Linked DNA regions of Homo sapiens: region 2 is linked to region 1. Evidence: fine-mapped expression QTL. A gene starts in region 1. The other region holds a variant in brackets. All regions are shown on one strand. Distances are from middle to middle. Region 1 holds the start of DGAT2 (diacylglycerol O-acyltransferase 2). Region 2 overlaps DGAT2 (diacylglycerol O-acyltransferase 2).

Region 1 (12,122 bases):
ATCTGCACCATAATCTGCACAGGTTCTTATGACACTTTTGCTCATTTCATAGATGAGGAGACTGAGGGTAAGGAAGGGTAGTGGCTTGCTGAGGCTGCGGAGCAGTTCGGTGGCCAAGCAGGAGCTGGACAGAGCCCAGGCCTGACTCCTACCCCTGGGCCCTGCCCATGAGGCCCTCAAATCAGCCAGCAGCTCCATACCAGGAGGCCCTCAAAGTGCTGGAGGCCAATAAACTAACTGCACCAGGCTCCTTTCCCATGAGCTCTCAAGTCTTCCTCCTGCTGCAGACACAGGTGAGCCACCACAGGCCTGGATCCAGCATCCTCTCTGTCTCTCTTGTCTCTGGCTCTCAGTACACCAAGACCTCAGCCTCAGTTGGTCACTCAGAGGCCCTGCAGTCAGTCTGCCTCTCCCATCCAAATCTCATGCCTCTATTTATGCTATTTCCTGTACCTGAATGTTCTTGCCTGTCTTGCTGATGTCTATTCATCTTTCCAGATCCGGACTGAATGTCACCTCTTCCAGGAAGACTTCCCTGACCTCAGGGTGATCAAGCTCCCCGGTCTCACCTCTTGGCAGTCTTTCCTGTCATTGCTCAGATCACTCTGCACAGTCATCTTGTGTACATCCCCCTGGTCTCACTTCCTCAAACGCAGGGACTGCAGCTGACACACAGAAGGTGCTCAATCAATAAAATGAAGGGTCCACACCCCAAGTCCCTTCCTCAGTGAAGCCTTCCTGGATGCCCTAGAGCAGGGTCTGCCACTCTCTACAGTGTTGGGGGCCTGCTGAATGTGTAACACAGGACAAATGACAAGGACTAACATGAATGTCACAAGTTCACAAACACTCACACTCAGGTTAACTCAAACCCTCCATCCTTGAGAATCTGAGAATTCTGACCCTATTTTCCAGATAGAAGGAGTGAGATCCCCAGAGAGGAAGTGAAGCCCCCAGCCACATCCCAGAAAAATGTCAGGCCTGGAACCCCAGCTCTCGGGCTTCTAATAAGCCCTGGGAAGCAGTAAGGGTGACCATTGAGACTGGCTCTGCCCACTTGCCACTCAGCCTTGGAGCCAGCTCCTTGCCAGACTGTGGGTACCTCCAGGGCAGGGAACAGCTACAACCCCAGCACCCAGTCCCTAGCACAGGTGGTTACAGGGACAGAGGAGGCCCAAGGAAGGCTCGAGGAATCACACTGAAGCTAAAAGCAGGGCTTCCTCCAAGAGGAATGGGGCAGTCCCACTAATGATTCCTTCGTTTAACAGATACTTACTAAGTACCTATTACCAGTGCCAGGCACTGTGCTAGATGTCACAGCACTGAGAAAGACAGACAAGGTTCCTGTTTCCAAGGGACTCATATTCTTTTTCTGTTTGTTCTTTTTGTTTTGTTTTGAGATGGAGTCTCGCTCTGTTACCCACGCTGGAGTGCAGTAGCACAACCTTGGCTCACTGTAACCTCCTCCTCCTGGGTTCAAGCGACTATCCTGCCTCAGCCTCCCAAGTAGCTGGGATTACAGGCACACACCACCACACCTGGCTAAATTTTTTTATTTTTAGTAGAGACAGGGGTTTTACCATGTCAGCCAGGCTGGTCTCGAACTCCTGACCTCAAGTGATCCTCCCACTTTGGCCTCCCAAAGTGCTGGGATTACAGGCGAAAGCCATGGCACGCGGCCGGCAAAGGGACTGATATTCTTACTGGGGAGACAATTGCTTAAACAGATAAGCACGCATGAAAATTTAGGTAGTGATAAAGGCTATAAAAATAAAAGAAGATGTGGTGATTGGAAGTGGCTCTCTAGATTGGAAGTGGCTCTCTAGATAGGGTGGCCAGGGAAGACCTCTGAGAGGAGATTGACTGTTGTAAAGCCAGCCATGCGAAGACCTGGGCAGACAGGCAGCATATGCAAAGGCGCTGAGGTAAGACTGAATTGGGAGTAATGCTGCAGGAACAGGAAGACCACCATGCGTCTGCAGCATGGTGGGTGACATACTAGGAGAGGAAGTCGTGATGGCAGTGGAGGCTGTTCACCTGGGGCTTACTTCATAGGCCAGGAGGAAGAGTTTGGAAAGTCTGAAGTGTGACTGAGTGTGGGTAGGGGGCAACTGGCATTCACCTGGCAGCCAAAGCTCTGGGGGATCTTAGTGCTCTAATCCACTAGGGCAGGCTTGGGGAGCTTCCTCAAAAAGTTTGAGAAGGGATGAGCTGCCACCCGCACCATGGAGACAACCTTCACTCATTCAGCAAACCACTGAGCACCTACAATGCACAGAGCCCTGCACTCAGCCCTTCACGGCCTTGCAACCCTTCTCTTGGCTTAAGGAGTCAGGCCACAGACTGGGAGATGGATCTGAGTTCTAGCCTGGCTTTGATAACCCTGGGAAAGTCCCTTCTTTCTGGAGACTCCAGTGATCCCATCTGTAACATGAGGGTTGGGCCCGATCCAGCACTAATTTTTACAACTCAAGTACTTGCTGTTGAATTTGAGGGCAGGAGGGTGGAGGTGGGGCAGGATTTCAACACTGACCATTGAGTCACTGAGCCTGTTAATACAACATTACTCTTGGCCCTCCTTTCTCAGCCTAGATGAGCCCTTGGTGACGCAGCCCCAAAGTGGCCTCTATTCAGCTGGGGAAGTGATGTAGGTGAGGGGGGAAGCCACACGGAATTGGAGAGGGAAGCATGAGAGTAATGTTCTCATTCTGACTTAGGACTAGGTTAGGTGACTGTCAACCCTCAGTTCCCAGTTACCCCCAACAATCTAGCCACTTAGTTTCAAGCAGATCCACAGTGATGTGGAACTCCATCCTCACCCACCCCAGCCTGTTGCAGTCCTCAACAGCTGTCAGAAAGGACTCCTCTGCTACATCAAAACTTGCACCCATCATCCCACTCCTATTCCTGGCCTCACTCTTTGGAGCCGCACACAACAAATCAGCTCAAAATTTTACTGGGACCACCAACATCTCATGCTAGGTCCTGTGCTGAACCCTGAGGACACAGGCAGGTGTCAGAGGGCTCTTCTGAACGAAGAGCCCCCAATCCAAAGGCAAGGATAAAGAATAGGATATATATCCCTCCTGTCCTGATGAACTCTGCAAACTCCACGTCTGGCACAGGACAGCCCTCCAAGGATTAGGAAATATCAACACAGACTCCCGCTTCCCCCAGCATGCACCCACCTACCCATACTCCCACAGCTGGCCTTTTTTTTTGGCCAAGAAACCAGATGCCAAGGTATCTATTTCAATCTCTCACCCGTCACAGGACTTCCCTTCACAGAATCCATGGTCTCTACTTGAATACTGTCACTGACGGGCTGTTCACCAGCTCACAACAGTGGGACCTTACCCACAGAGGCAAACTAGGCCACTGGGGAGTATCTTCAAGGACCAAGGATCTAGAAGGCAGGTCTAATGGAGATGCCCAGATAACAAAATGTGCTTCAGTGCCCTCCCCTACTCCACCCAATCTTTCACCAAAGTAGATCCCAGAAAGCTGAACTGACTGGTTTGCATTTCATACCAGCCCTTCCTACATTCCATGATGTAAATCCTTGCACCCAGTTTAAAAAAAAAAAAGTTTTCAAGATCTGATAACAACATGGGGAAATGTTCCTGACATGATATTAAGTGGCTTGGTTAAAACCATTCGCTAGAGTACAAGTTCTCCTAAGGAACAAACTCTAAGTCAAAAACATGACAGCCAGGGTCACTGCCTCCTGGAAGACACAGCTCCCAGCCTGTGGATGGCAGAGCCGACGGAATGGGGTCTCCAGGAAGCACTACCACAGAGAACATCCCTATCCCACTGCCCAGTGCAAAAACATTTTTAACAGCATGAACAAGGGCAAGTCCATTCATCCATTGATGTCCCTAAGGACATCAAAGGACACAGGGAACAGAAAAGGACTCAAGTGAGAGAAGGGGCTGTCAGAGGCTACTGGCTGGATACATGGGGCAGCTCAAGCTGCTCGCCCCCGAGACAGGGCAGCAGCTGGGTTCCTCTTCAAGGGCTACGAGCAGCACCCACACCAAGAGGGGCAGATAACCACAGCGATAATCACACAAGAAGCAATGCCAATGCCTAGGTCACAGTTAAAGTGTGGTACAGCTGCAGGGTGGGTTATTGCAACCACTAGGACATTGTAAGTGATTCTGATTAACAGAAGGGAAACCTCGATGTTACATTAAGGGGGAGAAAACAAGATTCATAACTATATCTACAGCATGTCCTCAATTGTATCTATGCAATGTGTATAAAGAAAATGATCAAGAGATATACTAAAATGCTAATAGGAAGGTATCTTTGGATAGTCGATTTACCAGAAATTTTTTTCATTTGTCTATATTTTCAAAAATTCCATAATTAGCAAGCTTTATTTTTGTAACAAAGGTGGGCGGTGTAGGCGACCGTTAGTTACTAAAGAAAAATCCATGTCAGAGAGGCTCAGCAAACAGAATACAGACTTAGAAAGAGGGAGAGGGGCTTCATGCAAGACACACACGCAGACCAGGACAGCTGTGATGACTTCCCAGGGTCTACCGGATTTGTACTTGAATCCAGGGGTCAAGGCATCAGCTAAGGAAAACTTAGGCATGCTTCCTCCCACTTCAGTTTCTCCAGCTCTAGGTAAGGGAGGTGGGGGTTGGAAGAGTTGCTATTCCTCGCTTGGGAAAAGCTGCGGGGGGTGCGGGGCGGGGGTTGATTTCAACTCTGCGCGATTCACTGAGGACCTCAGTTCTACCTTGGAGGACATGCAGGGTCCTCTCCGCTGCCTTCTAAGCATGCCAGGCTCAAGAGTTGCTGCTATGTGGGCTCCAGAGCCTGGGCGAGAGGATGGATGTGGGACAGAGGACAGGGCAGACACACCTGTTCCAGTCGGGCATGTTCCCCGTCTGGTGGCTGTCTCAGGAGACGGCAAAACCCATACCATCCTGCCCATCCAGTCTATCACTGCCAAAGCTCGCTCTACCTGGTGAAGGGAGAGGGGAGGGAAGTGCCAGGGGTCACCAGCCGCAGTGGGGGCTGGGGAGGAGTTCTCGAATATCCCTAATAACTAAGAATGGTGGGTGGTACCGCTCCCACCTCACGGATGAGGGAAACAAGCTGGGGGGCGGGTGGAAAGCGATGTAACAGAGGTCGTAAAAATTGATGAGTGCCACAGTGGAGAATGAACGTGGACTCATCAGTACCCACCAGCCTGCCACAGGGCCCTTTCCAGAAAATCTTCTCGCAGGTCCATAACCCCTGCGCCGTGGCACTCACCCCATCTCCCAGACCCCTCGCGCGACAGCGCAGGTCCTCCGTGAGAGCGCTGGCTCCGGTCAGCCTCGGCCTGACGCTCGCCGCGCAGGACCCCGGAGTAGGCGGCTATGAGGGTCTTCATGGCTGAAGCCCGCCCAGTCACGGCCCCGCGGGAAGCCGCTTCACCCCGCGCCCCTGGCCCATGCCCCGGCCCCCGGGGCCAGGGCTTCGCGCAGAGCACAGGGGTCCCGGGACGGCGTCGAGGCTGGGCGGCTAGGACACCTGGAGCTGCGGCCGGCGGCCAGTGGTGGCGCGAGAGAAACAGCCTAGACCCCAGCAGAGGCGGCAGCCGCGGCGCTGGCGTCCCGGAGCGCAACACTTTATCACCTCACAACGGGGCAGGCGCCGACGCGGCGGGCGGGGCGGGCCGTTCTAAGCCGCCGCCCGCGCCACTTGCTTGTGGGGGAACCGCACCTGAGGCTCTGCTTGGCGCGGGCCCGGGGCTGGCCAGCAGCCTGCTCCGCGCGGATCCGGGGAATGCGTGAGAGGAGAGCAGCTCTGAGCCCTGCTTCCAAGGGGCGCGCCCGGTTATTCCCCTCGCTCCCTCAGTCCGACCCCGGGCGCTCCCCCGCGGAGATTGGTACGGCCCGGCGGCCAGTACCCGGGCGGGGAAAACCAAGCACGTGCGGTGCAGGCAGAGGGCGTGCAGGGGGTCGGGCCTTTACTCTTTAGGAGGGGCTGTCTTTTGGCAGCAAAGATGCGAAGGTCCCGCTTTTGGTCACTGGTATCAGGATTAGTTAGGTTAGGGCTGGGTATCTCAACCACCCAAACTGCTTCTGGCTTTCCATCTCTTTATTAAGAAACCTCACAGAGCACCTATACCCTGCTGGGTGCTGGGGACCCAGCCAGATCAGCCCAGGTTCTGCCCTTGGGATGCTCACGCTGGGGGGCAGCAGAGACAGCCGCACACAGTCACTGGTGACAACGGCCGGGACAAGCGAGAAACCAGGGGGCTATGGAACCACAGAGTAGAGAAGACTCTGCCCTGGGCTGGGGGAGTGGGGGCGCTGGTGCACTTCCCAGAGAGGTTGGTGCACAGCAGGTTTGGAATCAGATAGACTAGGAGTCCAGTTCTTGCCCTGCCTCTCTTGAGCCTCAGTTTCCATATCTGTAAAATGGGAATAATAATTATTATTTTTGTGAGGTACTTTGAGAAGTAAATGAGATAAGGTATAAAAAGAGCCTAGGTAGTGTCTGGCACATAGAAAGCATTCCAGAATGGTTTGCCCATTAATGAATAGGAATTTTGCAGATGGAAGGTGTGAGGGCAAAGCAGAAAGATAGGCATAAAGTGTTAGAAAAGCCAGCATGTTTGGGGCAGGGCTGGGGGCCCTGGAGTGGCTGGAGCCCAGGCAACTGTGGAAAATGAGGCTGAAGTGAGAGGCGCGGGTGCTTGAACTGAGAGAGGTTTGGGAGTGCCACTCTTGAGATATTGGGGGGGAGCCGGGTCTTGGGAGAGCTTTAGTAGGGAAATGGCTGGTCAGGTGGGTTTTAAGTGTCCTTAGCCATGGTATGGGAAATGGACAGGAGAGGCTGTAGGTCAGGAGGGCAGTGGGGAGGCTGTAGGGGCGGGGGATCCATGTGAGAGAGGATGAGCCTCAAGGCACGGCAGTGGTAGAGGGAATGGAGGGAAGGCCTGATCTAGGGAAGAGCATAGGAAGCGAGATCCACCAGCATGTGGTGGAGCGACTTGTTGGATGGAGGCTCAGGGAACGAGTGGGGACAACAAGCATGTCAGTGATAAGACAGATTTCTTAGGCATAGCTGGAGCGAGATAGCTGTGGGGTCACAGCATAAGAGGAGAGGAATTCCCTGCCTTTGTGGTCTTTATCATGTTCTCACAGGGGGAGAGGAGAATGACAGAAGTTACAGGCACAGGGCAGCAGGTAATAGATGCCTCTGGTGCAACCTAGAGATGCTTCCATTTGTTCAGCCCTCTCAAGGCCACAGGAGTAAATCTCTCAACCGTGTTACTGGGCCCCAAGGCCCGAATTGGCCAAGAGTAGAAAGAAAAGCATTCCAGGCAGAGCTCCCAGCATGTGGTGAGGCCATGAGGCTGGAAAGATCTTAGTGCCTTTTAGGAAACTGAGGGTAGGCTAGTGGCATGCCACATGTGGGGGATGGGGGGAGACATGGGGACTGGTAAGTGCAAAGGCTGGGAGGTAGAAACAGGTGTGGTTTGTTTTTGGGCAAAGAGGAGTGAAGCCAGGAGGATACTGAAGGTGCCAGTAAATCCTGGCATCCTCTCCTCAGAGAGGGTGCTCTTGGAGGCAAGACTCCTGCTGGCCTGGAAGATCCCAGGTCAGTCTGTGGCTCGTGCCTGCTCCAGAAGGGTCTCCTGTGGAGGAGGCCTGGGCTGGAACTCATGGCCCACCCACTCACCCTGGGCAAGTCAGTATCGCTATCTTGTCTAGGTTTCCTTTTCTGCATTATGAAATGGAGGTGACAGTTTCTGTTTTGCTGACTTCACTTGAGTATTTGAGGATGAAGTGAAATCACAGCATGTAAAAGAGTGTTATCACTGTGCTGTAATGTAAGAGATCATTGTCTTAAATGGCAAGATTTGGGGTTACCAAGGCCTATTTGAAACATTCAGATCCCAAGTTCATCTACTTCAGCACATTTTTGCTATGCACCTTCTCTGGGCCCGGCCTTGGTTAGGACACAGAGAGTAATCGGACTTAGTCCTTGGCTTTGAGGAGACCCAATCGAGAGATGGTGTCCTAAAGCCAATGATCCCAAGACAGCCAGCCTGTGGCACAGGGTAACATGGAAGGCTATGCCAAGTTTGGCCTTTCCCCCTGTGCTGTCACTGTCTGCCTGCCTCTCCACGGAGCCAGGCGTTTCCCAAGGGCAGGAACCTCATCACTCTATGTCCCAGTGTGGGCCTAGCTCGGCATAGACGCTTAGTCCAAGGTGGATTGCCCCCTGAAAAAGTATAGTAGAGTCATAGAGGAAGTAGAGGGAATGGTAAATTGGGAAGGTCAAGAAGAAGTGATATTGCTGCAGACCTAAGATGAGAAGTCTGATTCTGTGAGGCAGGGGGAAAGGGGAAAGGTGTCAGGCAGAGGGTACAGCATGGACAAAGGCCTGGAGGTAGGAACCCTGTGAGCACCCTGGTGTGGCTGAAAGAAAGATACAGGCAGAAGAGGGGTAGGAAATGAGGCTGGAGAGGTTGACAGGGCCCAGATCTGAACGGCCTCGTGGGTCCTGCCAGGAAGCTTGGACTTCATCCTGTGGGGGGATGGACCAAAGGAGGGGTGTGAGCAGAGATGCACCTTGATTGGATTGGTGGGTTAGAAAGATAAACTGGGGCCCAGCGCGGTGGCTTACGCCTGTAATCCCAGCACTTCGGGAGGCCGAGGCGGGTGGATCACGAGGTCAGTAGATCGAGACCATCCTGGCTAACACGGTGAAACCTCCTCTCTGCTAAAAATACAAAAATTAGCCAGGCGTGTTGGCAGGTGCCTGTAGTCCCAGCTACTCGGGAGGCTGAGGCAAGAGAATGGCGTGAACCCAGGAGATGGAGCTTGCAGTGAGCCGAGATTGTGCCACTGCACTCCAGCCTGGTAGCCTGGGCGAGAGAGCAAGACTCAAAAAAAAAAAAAAAAAAGGAAGATAAGCTGGGTTGTTGGGGTGGAGGTGGGTGCTTGGGGAATAGGGCCATAAAATCTGGTCCCCAGCTTGGGCCCTTCCTGTGTGGGAACATCTGTGAGAGGACGCAGAGGTGAGTCCAAGGGCTGAGAGGCACAATTGCTTACTTCTGTGCCACCTCACAGAGCAAGCAGCCCCTGGCATCCCAACTTCTAGAACACTCCTTCCCCTTGGCCTCCAGCCGCCATGCCCATGGGTACTGCTTAAACAGCTTGGTCCAAATTGGATTTGGAAGGAAAACCAGACCCAAACTTAGAGTAGCCTGGAAAGGAAGTTTCATGGCAGCTTCCTGTGTCCTGGGACTGTTTTCCCCTGTGTGAGTTTGGGCAAGGGGGACTTACACCAGACTCTGACTTCTCCTGGCCCCCTCCCATGCTTCTTGACATTCCTAGCCTCCTATAATGACCAGCCCTGACCTTCCTGCAGGTGTGTGAGCAGAACAGCTTGAGAATGTGTTCTAGGACCTGGTTACCTTTCCTTCATCATCTCTCAACCCATGTGTATATTGGGAAAATCAGAGACCGGTCAAGTCATGCCTCCAAGAAGGGCTTGACCAGGGTGGGCTTTGTGGTCCCACCAAGAAGCTTGGACTTCATCCTGTTGGGGGATGGACCAAAGGAGGGGTGTGAGCAGAGAGGCATCCACAAGGATGGCTCATCCTCCACCCACTTCAATCACCAGTGTTGTACAGCCATTGGGGATTACACGTGCAGCTTTGTAGCTTGTGAGAGGTTTGACGCATGCACCTCTGAGATATGCTTCAGTGATAGCAGTCTTAGCTCCTCCATTGCACACATGAGGAGGGTAAGTGGCCAGCCTATAAGGCAGAGAGGACACTTGCCCTAAGAGAGGCACAGGTAGAAAGACAGAAACAAACGTGTATCAAGCTCCCTGCTCTGTGCTAGGCCCTGGCTTGTGTGAGCTTGCCCAGTCCTCACAGCCACCACACAAGGGGTGATCACCCCCACCGCTTTGCACATGGGGTGCAGGGAAGTAAAGTGACTTGTCCTGGATCACACAAGGAGTAAGTAGTAAAGCTGAGATTCACACCAAGTCTTCCAGAGCCTCAAACCTGTACGCTTTTCCTGCCTCCCAAGGCTGGGAGAGGGAGCACCTGTAACAGCAGAACTACTGGACGAAAGCAAATTCCCATCCATCGCCTCCACAGCCCTGGGAGGTTAGTCCCATTTTGCAGTTGGCAAAATGAAAGCTCAGGGAATCCAATAGCTTACCAGATGGGGTTGGGATGTAACCAGTTCTCATGCCACAAGGCTAGGGCCCATTGGGGTTAAACTCCTTTCAGTGCTCAACTCACTTGGAGAGTGGGCGGGCAGGGTTCTGGCAAGCAGAGGCAGCCTGGCATGGCCCTCTAGCCTGGAAACTCACCCGCCTCCTTACTCACAGGAATTTGCCAGCCAGAGCAGCTGTGTGGCATGGCTGCACTCCTCTTGGAAGTCTTTGCCTCCCACGTCCAAGCCCCCTACTCTCCCTCTTCCTGGTGGCTTCCCCACATGCTGCTGCTGCTTTGTGGTCAGGGGCCTGATGGTATATAGTCTTGGGTGGCAGGCTACAGAGTCTGGACTTTATTCTCAGGGCAATGGGGAGCCATAGAGGTTTTTAGCAGGAGTTTTATGCTTTAGAAAGATCATTGTCCAGGCAAGAACATCTTTAACTGTCATCTCCATGGCACCCTTCCTAACTACCTCTACCTTATATTAGTCAGTGTCCCTATGGGAAACAGCCCACCCAAACTGGGTAATTTGAGGACAGTTTAATACAAAGACTGTTTGCAAAGATGTAAGCAGGCTATAGAGAAAACTCAAGGGATGGTGCAGTAGCCCAGGACTAGTCACCTCACAGGGGATCTGGCCTGAAGGACTAAGAGAAGGACACTGCAGGTGCAATGGGGGCTGAGCGGAGAGGGCTGCCACATGGAAGCTGTGGCCTTTGCTGAAGGGGCACAGACAACCCACAGGGACCTGGGTGATATTGGATGGAAGGGAGGGAGGCAGATGAGAGGAAGGAGAGAGATAATGACGACAGAGCCTGAACTGAAGGGGTGGCAAGGCAAAAGAGAAGCGAGGGTGATTTTGAGAGATGCTGAAGCTTTAGAGTCTCTAGGATTTGATGGCATGGATGTAGGGCTGAAAGGAAGGAAGGGGGTGATTGAAGATGGCTCCGGGTTTCAAACCAGAACCCAAGAGCACAGACCTCCCAGCTCTAAGGTCAGGCCTTAGCAGAGCTTGGTAATGGCCTTTGGCCCTATCTTGTGTGACAGGTCTGGATGACAGTAGAGGAATAGGGCAGGACTGAGACCCTTGGGAGCAGCCCCAGGCTTGTTTTAGAAAGTTCTGTTGCAATGTGTACAGACAGCTCCCCTTGCATCATTCTGCCTGCTTATTTCTTACTCAACTCTCTCAAGGCCTCTTCCCTGCAGGAATTGGGGGGTGGGGTGAGGGTGGGGGAGGGGATATTACACAGAGAGCTCCCAGTACATTCATTTCTCATCTGCCCTTCTATCTGGCCGACCTTTCCTGAGACCCCCCATCCTTGTGCTGGGTGCTGTGGGTACAGTTCTTGCTCCTTAGGGGCATTCTGGGGGAAGAAACAGACACCTAAAATGACAATTATTATTCAGCAGTAGTTTCTAGCTTTTTAAAAGCAGTGAAACCATTTCTTTTTTTCTTTTTTCTTTTTTTTTTTTTTGAGACGGAGTCTCGTTCTGTCGCCCAGGCTGGAGTGCAGTGGCACAATCTCGGCTCACTACAAGCTCCACCTCCCGGGTTCACGCCATTCTCCTGCCTCAGCCTCCCAAGTAGCTGGGACTACAGGCGCCCGCCACCACATCCAGCTAATTTTTTTTTTGTATTTTTAGAGACGAGGTTTTGCCATGTTAGCCAAGATGGTCTCAAGCTCCTGACCTCGTGATCCGCCCATCTCAACCTCCCAAAGCGCTGGGATTACAGGCGTGAGCCACCGCGCCCAGCTGAAATCATTTCTTCAAATACAACCTTGAGAGCCCAAGAAGTGACAGGGATGACAGGCTGCTGGGGTGGTCCCACAGTTCCTCAGGGTTTGTCTCTCACTTGCCCAGCCCACACACCCTATCTCCAGGGCTCTGTGGAACACAGTTTGAAACTCCTGCTGCACAGAAT
Region 2 (12,122 bases), 29 kb before region 1:
GAAACACCCTAGCTTTTAGCCTGGGTAAGGAGCTGGAGAGATGTGAAAATGTGGAAAGCAAGCCTAAGTCGCAGTGTGGCCTATGCCTGAGAGCCATCTTCAGTGCCCCCTTGTGGCTGTATCTGGGAACCACAGACAGAATCATGGAACTGACCATCTTCAGTCTCAAAGTGCTGCCCTCACCACTACACCCAGGGGCAGGTGGTCTTCGGGGGAAAGGCGGTTCCAGTTCCTTCTCCCAAGGTAACAACTCCCATCCCAAGGCAATGTTCACAGAACCTATCAGAGTCCCCCCTGCCCTATGCACAGCTTAAGACCAGGGTGGTCTCAGCTCTGATCAGGCCACTGAGGGCATCTGTCTGAGATTTGGGACCCAGTTATTGTCCCTGTTCTTCTTAGGCAGATGGCGGAGTTCCCCAGTACACAGAAGGTGCTCACTCTTCACAAAAAGCAGTGCTTGAGAATAACAGCCTACCTTGGTGGAGTAGCTTCGTTAGGGCCAGGGCTTGACTTGAAGCCAGAGACTGAGGTTGCAGTCCAGCCTTGGGTCAGCCTCAGGCTGGGGCTGGGGTGATGCTGAGACCCTCACCAGAAAAAAGGCCTTTACCCCATCCGAAAGGAAATGGCTATCCTCTGACCTGAGCACTCTAGCCTGAGGCCTGCCTGGCGCTAGAAGCCAGCCTCTGTTGTCCCCTCCCAGCACTCCTCCCACTGCTCTGCCTTTCTGCCCACATAGAAACTCTGGAGACACCAGCTCCCCACCCTTCCAAGCTAAGCCCCACTGCTGTCTCTGCCTCCTCCATCTTTCAAACCGGCAATGTTTTTCCAATCAGGCCTCCCTATCCTTCCCCTACTGCTCTGCCCTTCACTGCCTTCCTTTCCTGGCGACTCTCAGCCGCCCTTCAAGGCCCAGCTCAGGCGTTCTTTCCTCAGTGACGCACCCCCGGGCAGGCTGGGGCTTCTGGCACAGCTCTGGCCACCCTGCGTATCTTCAGCTGTTCCCAATGTTTGTCTCTGCTCCCAAGTAGCTCTCTCACAGTTTCTGGCACAGAGGAGTTGGCCCTGAGGGGGATGAACAGCAAGGACAGGCAGGACAGTTCTGGCAGTAAGGAAGTTAGAACAAGGTCCTTTGGTCTCGGCTAGGAAGGGTTCCCAGGTGCTTAGTACTCACTGAACAGAAAGGAATTAGAAAAGAGGTGGCATCTTGTAATCGCTAGGGTGACAGCAGGCCAGGCCTCTGCCTTTTTGGTAGAGCTGAGGCCAGGGGCAGGGAACACAGCTTGAGTGACCCATAAGGAGCCTTCCAGCTCAGCCACCCAAGGGCCCCCCAGCTGGACAGGAGCCCTTTACCACATGGTAGGCATCATGTCAAGTGGCTCCCAATGACCCCTGCCCCCTGGCATCCATTCCCTGGTGTAATCCCCTCCCGTCCAGTGGGAGCTGGACCGAGCAATGTTCATTTAATGAACAGAATATGGCAAAAGTGACAGGATATCACTTCCCAGGTTAGGTTATAAGGGCCTGGGACTTCCGTCTTGCTCGCACACTTCACTCCACTCACTGGCTCTTCTTGCTAAGTAAGCTGGTGTGCCGTGAGCTACCCCATGGAAAGGCCCATGTGGCAAGGAACTGAAAGTGGCCTCTGTCAACAGCCAGTGAGGAAGTCAATCCTGCGAACAACTGCAGGAACGGCCTTGGGAGTGGATCCTTCCTCAGCCCGGCTCCAAGACAACTGCAGCCCTGTGAGAAACCCTGAGTGGAGGACCAAGCCAAGCCTCAAATCGTGACTTGGAACTGGGAGACAACAGATGCTGTTGGAAGCCACTGAGCTCTGAAGTAGTTTGTTACACAGTGACAGGTAACTTACACACCATGGCAGGGTCATGTGGGCCAAAGGTGCAAGGGGCTAGAGGGCTCAGAGGGCAGCCAGCTGGGGACCCAGTCTTCCCCAGGTGTCAGCAGCAGATGCAGATGCAGCCCCAGCAATAACTCATAGAGGATTCTCACTTTCATTTATTTTCAAGGCATATACAAAAGTCTGACATGGTGCAATGATCTCATCAAGAGATAACAGAACACACAGGAGAGGGTTGGGTTTCCTCCCCGGCCCAACCCCCTCAGGAAGGCACAGAAAAGTGAGGCTTGGGTTCGGGGGCCACCTGCTTTGGAACTAATCTGCTGCTCAGAAGGCCAGGCCCCTTCTGAAGAGGGATCTCTTCCTCACATCCAGAATCTAGGATCTGGGGAAGGTAAACTGAGGCCACCAGTAAGCATGTGCTCCAGGCCAAGGCTGAGTCTGTGCTGCATCCATGTCATCAGCCACCCAAGAAAAACCAGTTACTCCACCTAGCTCATGGTGGCGGCATCCTCCCTGCAATGGTGCATGGGGGGCAGTCCTTTCCCCTGCAGGGTGTCATTGCCACCCCCATCCTCATCCTGGAGGCCAGTCCAGGCTCCGATATGAGTGACTAGGGGTGAGGTAGGGGTGGCAGAAGGGAGATCAAACTGGAGCATTCCAGATGCCTACTACTGCCCTCACACAACGGGGCAACTGTGCTCTCCAACTCCTCCCCTTGGCAGAGAAACTGGTCCTGCAGTTTCAGGACTAGACGAGCGTGGGGTAGTGGCAATAAAGGGGCTTGTATGAGAAGTGGCTTTCGCCTCTCATCCCTAGGGGCAAAAAGTGAATCATCTAACTGGTCCAAGTCACTAATGGCAATCCTTCTTCCCCAAGAAGACTGAGTTTCCTTTGTCACTTCAGGAAGGGAAGAAGAGAGGTTAGCTGAGCCACCCAGATTAGGCCCAGATTTAGCCACCACCTAGAACAGGGCAAGCTGGAAGTGAAAGAACTTGAAATACTGACTTTTTCCTTCTTAAAAAAGACCTAACATTGTAATGGTTTAGCAAAATTGTTATAATTTCTTTTAAATAACCCACAGACACCCATGACACTTCCAAATTTACAGAGCAAAAAAGTGATTTGCAGCTGGTTCCTCCAGGGAATTGGCCCCGAAGGCTGGCTCAGTTCACCTCCAGGACCTCAGTCTCCGGGAGGCCGAACTTGGTCTTGTGCTTGTCGAAGAGCTTCACCAGGGCCTCCATGTACATGGTGTGGTACAGGTCGATGTCTTGCTGGGTTGGGTGCTCCAGCTTGGGGATGGTGATGGGCTCTCCCACTGCAGGGACAGGGCAGAGGCTTCTGGTTAGTCAACACCCTTCCCCTGGGCATCCACCATGATGCTGAAGGTGGTGACGCTGGGCTGTGGGCCCGCCATGTGGAAGGAACTGTGCCAAATGCTTTATGTGCTGCATCTCTGGTTGTCCCCTATTACAGATGAAAAGACTGAGGCCCAGGGGCATGTGAAGGGACCCACCCGAGGCCACCAGGTGCTAAGCTGCAGATGGGATCAAGACTGGTTGAACCCACTGCATTCTGCTAGGAGGGTCTATGAGAGTCAGGGGATCAAGTAAACATCTTTGCTTTTGCTCTGCTCTGGGCAAGCCATTCCTGCCTCTCTGACCCTCAGTTTCCTCATCTGTCACATGGGGATTCTTCCTCATAGGGGTTTTCTAAGGATTCTGCAAGGAATGTGACATGCTTTAAAAAGTGTAGGCCAGGAGTGGTGGCTCACGCCTGTAATTCCAGCACTGTGAGAGGCAAAGACCCGCAGATTGCTTGAGCTCATGAGTTCAAGACCAGCCTGGGTAACATGGTGAAAATCGTCTCTACCAAAAAAAAATACAAAAAATTAGCTGGGTGTGGTGGTGCACGCCTGTAGTCCCAGCTACTCAGGAGGCTGAGGTGGGAGGATCGCTTGAGACTAGGAGGCAGAGGTTACAGTGAGCCGAGATTGCGCCACTGCACTCCAGCCTGGATGACAGAATGAGACCCTGTCTCAAAAATAAAAAAAAAAAAAATAAAAAGTGTGGTTAAGGGCAGGAGAGGAGGGAGTAGACCAGCATTTATGATCTGTGCGTTGCTTTATTTTCTTATCCTGCTGCATCTCCATACCCAATCCATTCCTATGTCCTGCCAATGCTATTTCTGAAATTTTTCCCAAATCATGCACATCTCTTCCATCTCCACTGCTACTCCCTTGGTCCAAGCCACTGGCTACCAAAACAGTCTCTGGGCTGGTCTCGTGGCTTCCATTTTTCTAACCCATCTTCCATCCAGCAGCTCCAAGGATCATTTTTAAATGCAAATCTGAACTTCCCCTCCCAAACACTCTCTGGTGGCTCTCCATTCTCAAGGTGAAGAGCAAATTCCTTCACATTGCCCACAGGACCCAGCCCCTCCCCAGCCACACCTGTGCATGGAAATGTTCCTGCTGCCTCCCTGTTGCTTTGTCTCTACCTAAAAGTACAAGGCAGGACACCTGGCCTAGGAACGCAAAGGATCTGTGTGAGCTTTGGCCCCTCAAGTCCACTGCCAAGGGCCCATGTGCTCCTGGGGGATCCATTAACATGCACACACACACCTACAATAGGTAATTCTTTAGAATCCTCTAAATGGTCCCAAATACACCCAAAACAACACAGACGAGGGCCAAGTGCAACCAGTGTTTTCCACTCTTCTGACAGGTCTATGCTGCAGTCATATTAATGTTTTTCTTTCTGTTCTTCAAAAAAACTACACAATCTTGCTTCTGAACTTCACGTAGGCTATTGTTTCTGATAAAAATTCTCTTCCTCCTCTATTTTGCTAGATAATTCCTATCAGTTAGCAGTGCAAGAGTTACCTCCTCCCTGGGGTCCGCTATGACTCCCTAGAGCACCTGCGCATCCTCATCACATTCCCCCACTAGTCTTTGCTGCAATAGTCTTCCCTGATAGACTAGTGGGTGCTGCAAACCCAGAGACTGCAGATTTTCTTTCCTCACTTATCACAGAGCTTGGTTCATCCCATAGGCTCAATTCCCCGACTCCTACTACTACCCCTCCTGACCAATATCAGCACCCAACACTTCAAAGTCCTCATGGCTAAGGGCATGGCCATCAGAGCCAGGTGGCCTGCATTGGAATCCCGTCTCTACTGCTGATTAGCTGTATGGCACCCTGTGTTCAGGACAGCCCTTGGTCTGCAGGCTAGGGGCTTACCAACAGTGGTGATGGGCTTGGAGTAGGGCACCAGCCCCCAGGTGTCGGAGGAGAAGAGGCCTCGACCATGGAAGATGCATGGGGCGAAACCAATGTATTTCTGGAACTTCTTCTGGACCCATCGGCCCCAGGAGCCCTCCTCGAAGATCACCTGCTT[G/T]TACACTTCATTCTCTCCAAAGGAGTAGATGGGAACCAGGTCAGCTCTGGAAGGGAGAGGCCAGGGTCTGTCATACCCTACTTACTGGCTTCAGTTTCTATGTCAGCCTAGAGGCCCTGGACACTGGCCAAGCATCCCCCTCCCCCAGCTGGGTGTACCAGAATTACCTGGGTGTCCCAAGTTCACATGATCCCTCTCTACCAGGTTCTGATGGGCCTTCTGCCCCACTGCTAGGGACTGGGGAGCATATCAGAGCTCTGGGTCCCCCAGGCAAAGGGAAGGCTGAGCGCCCTGCTCTGGAATGCCTGTTTTCCACCTCTTCCTGCAGGGCCTGCCTCTGCCAGGAAGTTCTCTTGGTCCCTCCACCAAACCAGGCCTCTCTCAGCCCTGGACTCACCATTGTTTCACAGTCTCAGCACACTGTGTTGTCACTGTCCATCCCTCTACCCTCCCCCACCCTTGGTGCTCCCTGAAGGCAGGGACTGGGTCCAATATGAATGTGTCCCCAGGGGCTGGCCCAGGGCTGAGCCTGCAGGGCAGCCTCTTCTTCCAAAGCCTGAGGTAAGGTCCCCAGGGGACAGAGAAAACAGCTGCTGTCCCCCAGCCACATTCCACACCACCCTCCTTCCTGACCTCCTGGTCTCCCAGCAAAATGATATATTCTGGCCCCAGGTGGTCCAGTCCTGCATATAAGCCTGGACTCTCGGCCCACCTGCAAGGGCCCACAGGCCACAGGTTGCATCTGTGCCCACCCAGACACACATGGGCAAACTTGGCCCACACTGTGCAGTCTGGGCTCCAACATCCCCTCCCTAACAGAATGACTGACTCCCTTCCATGCCTTCCTGGGGTCTGGGTCCTGTCTTCAGGGGCCAAGGAGTCTGCTGCCCTGGGCTGAGGGGCACTGGAGGGGTGTGTGTGTGTGTAGGGAGGCACTCACCCATGACGCAGGGCCAGTTTCACAAAGCCCTTGCGGTTCCGCAGGGTGACTGCATTCTTGCCAGGCATGGAGCTCAGAGACTCAGCCGCACCCCCGACCACGATGATGATAGCATTGCCACTCCCATTCTTTGAAAGCAAATAGTCTATGGTGTCCCGGCTGACAGGGCAGATACCTGAGGGGAGGGAAGGACGCAACAGTCAGGGTTGCCCATGGATCCACTCCCCATCCCCGGCACACAGTCAGGTATAAAACATAAAGAACCCTGGACCTGGGCCCCAGACCTAGCCCAGCCCCTTTGGAGTTGTCTGGTTCTGTGTAAGCTATTCATTTTTCTGAGCCTCAGTTTCCTCATCTGTAAAATGCAGCTAATGATACAAGGTTGTTTTGGGAACTCATGCATTTGGCAAACATTCCCAGGGCCCTAATTCTGCCAAGTCGGTGCGAGGTGTTGGGGATCCCAATGCATCAGTCTGGTGGGAGGTCTCAGGCAGGTGGACAATTACAGTGCCATGGACAACAATCAGGTTGTACAAAAGGCAACACAAGGGCTGGGGGTCCCCAGAAAAGGGGGTCAAAGAAGGCCTCCTAGGGAAGATGTTATCCGAGTTGAATTCTCAAGACCATATGGACAGCTCTCCTCCTCAGCCCTGACCCACCATGTCTGAAGCAGGTTGCATCTCCCAATGCAGGCCCAGCACCAAGGAATGGTGTGTTGGCTCCCTGTGTCACCCTGCCCGATGGAGAGGCTCAGGCCTTGACAACAGTGCCCAGCAGGAGCACAGGGGGTGGATTCTTACCTCCAGACATCAGGTACTCCCTCAACACAGGCATTCGGAAGTTGCCTGCCAGTGTAGCCAGGTAAGGCCGTATGCCTGGGAACTTCTTGCTCACTTCTGTGGCCTCTGTGCTGAAGTTGCAGAAGGCACCCAGGCCCATGATACCATGGGGGTGGTATCCAAAGATATAGTTCCTGGTGGTCAGCAGGTTGTGTGTCTTCACCAGCTGCAAGGATGACCTTGGGTCAGAGGAAACTGGCTGGGAGAGGGATACCGGGGCATACCCGGAGGGTAGGGAGGGATTGGATGTGTCATTTCCCCTGGACCTCCATGGGCCTGAGGGCTGCAATGAATCTCCACACCTTACCTCAGACTCTCATCCCCAGGGCCACAGTGCTGGTGTTGGGCAGTCACCATTTGCACTGTGGGTCTCTGGGAAGGGGTGGGCAATGTTTGCCCTTGTTCCTCTCAGTCTTCAGCCATGCACACAGCAGCTCTTCTTTGCACTCTGCCAGCCTCCTGCCTTCCCTCCCTCTGGGCCCATCCTTTTCGCAACAGCCAGAGTGATTATTCTAAAACTCAAATCCAACCCTTGTCACTCTTAGACTGGAGAGTGTGTCTGGCTTCATGTGAGTAAAGTCCAAGTTCCTGAGTTTGGCAACCGGGGCCTTGGCTGCAAGCTCTGCCCCCACTGTCAGTCTCTCCAAACTGTGAGCTCCTTGGAGGTAGGGTTTACTTGGCCCTGTGCTCTGTGGGCTCCTCCACAGCTCACAGAATGAGACAGGCAGCCCACCTCCTACTCCCCTGGCCTGGAAAAGGGACACTGCAGCTGGCCCAAATGGAAACTTTCCCACAGTCAGCTGGGCTCAGTTCAGGTTCTAAGGCAGGAAGGACAAGACAGGACAAGCGACAGCCCTGTGCCAGCCAGCCTGGGGTAGAGGTTAGTTGTAAGGCTGCAGCAGCTGAGGACCTGACCTGTGGTACTAAGGACACTGGGATGCTCTAAACGATGATTGGCTTCCTCAGGGCCCACCTCCTGCCCTGGGGCTGGTGCTTGAAGGGGTGGGTGATGCAGTGTCCCTAAACCCTGAGTCATGAGAGGCAAAGCCTGTGACACCTACCCTGTGTTACAAGGAATGTGATGGGGGTGGAAGAGGCTGAGAGAGACAATGAGTAAGGGTATTCTGCTCATAAAAACATCATTTTTATTCTGATTAGAAAAATAATAGGGCCAGGCATGGTGGCTCATGCCTGTTATCCCAACACTTTGGGAGGCCAAGGTGGGAGGATTGCTTCAGCTCAGGAGTTTGAGACCAGCCTGGGCAACATGGTGAAACGCTTATCTCTACAAAAATACAGAAATTAACTGGGCATGGTGGCACGCACCTGTGGTCCCAGCTACTCAGGAGGCTGAGGTGGAAAGATGGCTTGAGCCCAGGAGGCAGAGGCTGCAGTAAACCGAGATTGCACCACTGCACTCAAGCCTGAGTGACAGAGTGAGAAGAAAGGAAAGAAGGAAAGGAAGAAAGGAGAGAAGGGAGAGGAGAGGAGAGGGGAGAGGAACGGAGGAGAGGGCAGAGGAACGGAGGAGAGGGGAGAGGAACGGAGGAGGGGGAGGGGAGGGGAGGGGAGGGGAGAGGGAAAAGAAGAGAAACTCCTAGAGAATTTTAAAAATATAGGAAAGCAAAAAGAAAATTTAAAAAATCCATAATATTTCCATCCAGATAAAACCATCTGACGCATTGAGTCCTTTTTCTACTCAAAAATATACATGCTCTTTTTCAAAACCCACAAAATTGAGGTTATATGGGTTGATATCATTTTTATATCATTTTCTACCAAACATACAGCTATCTGTCCTTATCAAAATCCCTCAGTTCCATATCTTCTCGTGGCTGCATTTGTATTCTACAGCACAGCTCTCATGCATGTAACAGCACTGACTCAAACCCTGATTGATGGACATTTTAAAAGCTTCCAAAATTTCCCTCTTAGAAGTAATGCTTCAATAAATACCTTATCTTTGTCCACATATCTGATTGCTTTTGTGAAACAAACTTCTAGAAATACAATTCCTGGATAACAAGGAATGAACACGTTGGTCTTTTTGGCTGCCCTGCCTCAAAAGAGGTGACATCAATGACACTCCCACCTGAGTGCTGCAAAGTGCCCCTTCCCTGCACTGGTGCCAGCTGGAAGCAGAGTCACTGGCCACCAGCAGAATGTCAAGAGCCCAGGTTTTCTGTGACTCCAGATTTGGGAGCCTCCTGGCAGAGCTGAAGGACTTGTGTGCAGCTCTGGGGGAGAGGGTGCTGGTGGCTGGCCTTGGAAAATTGAAATGCAAATCTTCAGGTGACAGAGGGGATGGAAAAGGCTGGCTGGCACCACTCCCAGCTCTGACGCTGCCAGTCTGTGCAAATGTGAGCAAGACTCCCTCACTCTCATCCCCACTGCTTGGGGCACTGATGCTCTTTCTCCCGCTTTGCCCTTGGCAAACAGATTAAAGTTGCTCAAAAACCAAACCAACTCTCAGCTACTCCCCAAATAAATGGGAAACAGCAGCAGTCTAATCCATAGCTAGTGGGGCTCGGGGCAGCGAGCAGATCTCAAAATCTCGTTTACATGAGCTCTGTTAAGATTGCTGTTCCAATGTTTTGCCTAACAAGCAGGTCTGCCCACCAAGTTAGCTCTCAGTGAAGCTGGAATTAAAAAGTTCCTTGTGCTAGTTTTGATGAAAAAGGCAGGCAGGCATTGAGGGAAGAGCTGGGGCAGCCAATACCAGGTGGGAAACTTGGAAACTTGCTCCTGAGCTGATGGCCAGGCCTGGGATAGTTACCCTGGCAGGTGACCATCACGCCGTGCAGCATCTTTTTGTCCCCTTCCTATGGCTCCCCCGACCTTCCCACTGGGCCGATAACCAGGAACCCACAGCACTGCATGGGCTGGCAGAGCCCTGAAAGGTCTAAGCCATTCCTTGGATGACGGGGGGAAGCTGAGGCCTAGAAAAGGGAGCTGCAATTCCCCTGTGGAGGTCACAGCAAATTATCCTGCACATCTGGAGCAGGCCAGTCGCTGCACTTTTCCCTGGGCTGCTGGATGAAGATGTGTCACCCAGTGGGCCCCAGGTGGCTCTTTAAATCATTTCCTCCCTCCCCAAGGCTCTGATGGGACATTTGGTTGAATGAGGTGCCTTGGGACACAGTGCAAGTCAATGCCCTTGCTGTAGGACCCAGAAGAATGTAGGCATCTGACCAGCTCTGATCTGTTTTCATGTCACACTCCCCTCCCCCAGGGCTGGAGAGAATGTCCGTTCTGGAAGGAGGGGAAGGATACCGCCAATGAAGGTTCTGTTGACATGCCTGCTCTTGTGTCCTCTTGCTGCCTGTTTCCCGTGGCAAAGTCCCAGCCCAACACGATGCCCAGGCCCGGCCTGCTCGCTAATGTCAGTCTGGGACACATTCCTATCAAGTCACTCTTTATACCCTCCCTCCCAGGAGAGGCAAGGTGCTCAGATAGGCTTGTCCCACCACAGCAGTGCATAGAGGAAAAAATTCAGACCCACAGAAGAGCAAAGGCTTGCTTAAGTTTACACAGCACGGCATGGTGATGGTGAAAGTAACACAGGAGTAAGACCATGGGCCCCAAAGCAGACAGCCCTGGTTCCTACACTAGTCCTGCTACTACTTAAGCTTTGTGACCTTGGGATAGTCCCTCCTCTCTGTGCCTCAGTAAGCCTATCAGTGAAATGAGGCAGATGGACAGGTGATTCTAAGCTTAGAGAGAGTGTTTCCTAGTCTCCTCTCCAAGGATTCTGCCTACACTTTGGGGAGAGGTGATGTGGGGCACTGTCTGCTCCTCTTCCAGGTGGCTGGTGGTCTCGGTGGCTGTTGCTAACACAAGAACCCCACCTGTGCCAACAGAAGGGATACACTCTGGGCCAGATGAGCTGTTCTGGCAGCAAAGACCAGAGTCCCACCAGGAAGGGAGTAGGTGGGCGGGTGGGTACAGCGGCAGATCTTCATTACATGATTACTGGCAAGAGGCCAGGAAAAGGGGGTGGGACAGGAGGGTCACACACACCCCCATAGAGTGTCAGACCTGATGTCAGATCACCAAGGCCAAGTGAAGGGGAGATTGAGGCCCAGAGGGAGAGAGGCAGGCTCAGCCTAAGCCCCGGGTTGATCAGCCTAAGCCCCGGGTTGAGGCTCAACACCCCAGCCTGCCTCGGGCCCAGTTTGGCTTTTGTCCTAGTGCCCCAGGGAGCCCTCACAGGGCCAGGTTGTATGTGCCCTAAGGCTCCAACTCCCAGCTGACTTCTTGGAACAGAGATGTGAGAAGGACACAGGGGTTTGTTTGGTTCTTTTGGAAGGGTGGAGATCAGATAGCAAAGGACACCTGCCTGTCCCAGGTCTGACCAACAATCATCAGGTCATCCTGTTCTAAGTGGATGGGGCTACTGGCCTCCTGGAGACTTCCAGAGGACCAGGCCACAGTGGCAACAGAGAACACTGGAGCCTGGCCCCTGAGGTGAGAGAGAAAGCAGAAAGAACAGTCTATCATCACTCCCACCCAATCAGAACTGATTACTTTTCATCATACAGACAGCTCCATTTTGCAGATGAGGCTCAGCAGGCTTGAGAAAGTCTGCCCATGGCCCCATGGCAGAAAGTGACAAAGTCTATCAGGATGCAATAGACACCCCAAGGGCAGGGCTGACTTGTGTCCCCATGCCCAGCACAGCCCTGCACTGGACAGGGAGCAATGGTGGCAGGTTAATAAATGGAGTGACAGGGCAGGAACTTAAACTGAGATCTCCAGCAGCAACGGGGGAGAGGGAGACCCAGGAAGCTGGAATCAATCCAATGGGGAAATCCAGGGATTGAATCTCTCCCAGAGAAACAGGCAGTAGGAAATCAGTGGAAAAGAACCTGGGCCCTGAATTCAATAAGCCTGGATGGTGGTTGCAATGTTGCCATCATACTAGACTATGCAGCCTGGACAAGTCCTGCCCATCTCTGAGGCTCAGTTTCTTTACCTCCAAAATTAGAGGGTTGGGTCCTATGATGCAACTTTCTCCCAACAAAAACAGCTTCAAATTTTCTGCAGTTAGAGAGATGGGGTCAGGAAAAGGAGAAGGAACGCTGAC

What was found. PIP is the estimated chance that this variant, and not a neighbour inherited with it, causes the effect.
Region 2: its variant is fine-mapped to the expression of DGAT2 in whole blood (TOPMed, PIP above 0.99).

Annotation. Positions count from the first base shown.
Region 1 is chr11:75,762,265-75,774,386 of GRCh38, reverse strand. DGAT2 (diacylglycerol O-acyltransferase 2) reads right to left here and starts at 5,609. Exons shown (of 8, transcript NM_032564.5): 1 at 5,275-5,609. The coding sequence starts at 5,395. DGAT2-DT (DGAT2 divergent transcript) reads left to right here and starts at 5,740. Exons shown (of 4, transcript NR_046090.1): 1 at 5,740-5,893; 2 at 9,394-10,144; 3 at 11,843-12,122. RefSeq lists enhancers at 532-761, 902-1,051, 5,806-6,306, 7,613-7,832 and silencers at 5,290-5,529, 5,610-5,719.
Region 2 is chr11:75,791,408-75,803,529 of GRCh38, reverse strand. DGAT2 (diacylglycerol O-acyltransferase 2) reads right to left here. Exons shown (of 8, transcript NM_032564.5): 5 at 6,998-7,202; 6 at 6,198-6,372; 7 at 5,101-5,303; 8 at 1,996-3,176. The coding sequence ends at 3,022. Among named protein-coding and RNA genes, the nearest start is that of UVRAG-DT, 17 kb to the left of the region's middle. RefSeq lists a silencer at 6,370-6,419. The variant G/T (reference allele first, on the strand shown) is at 5,258.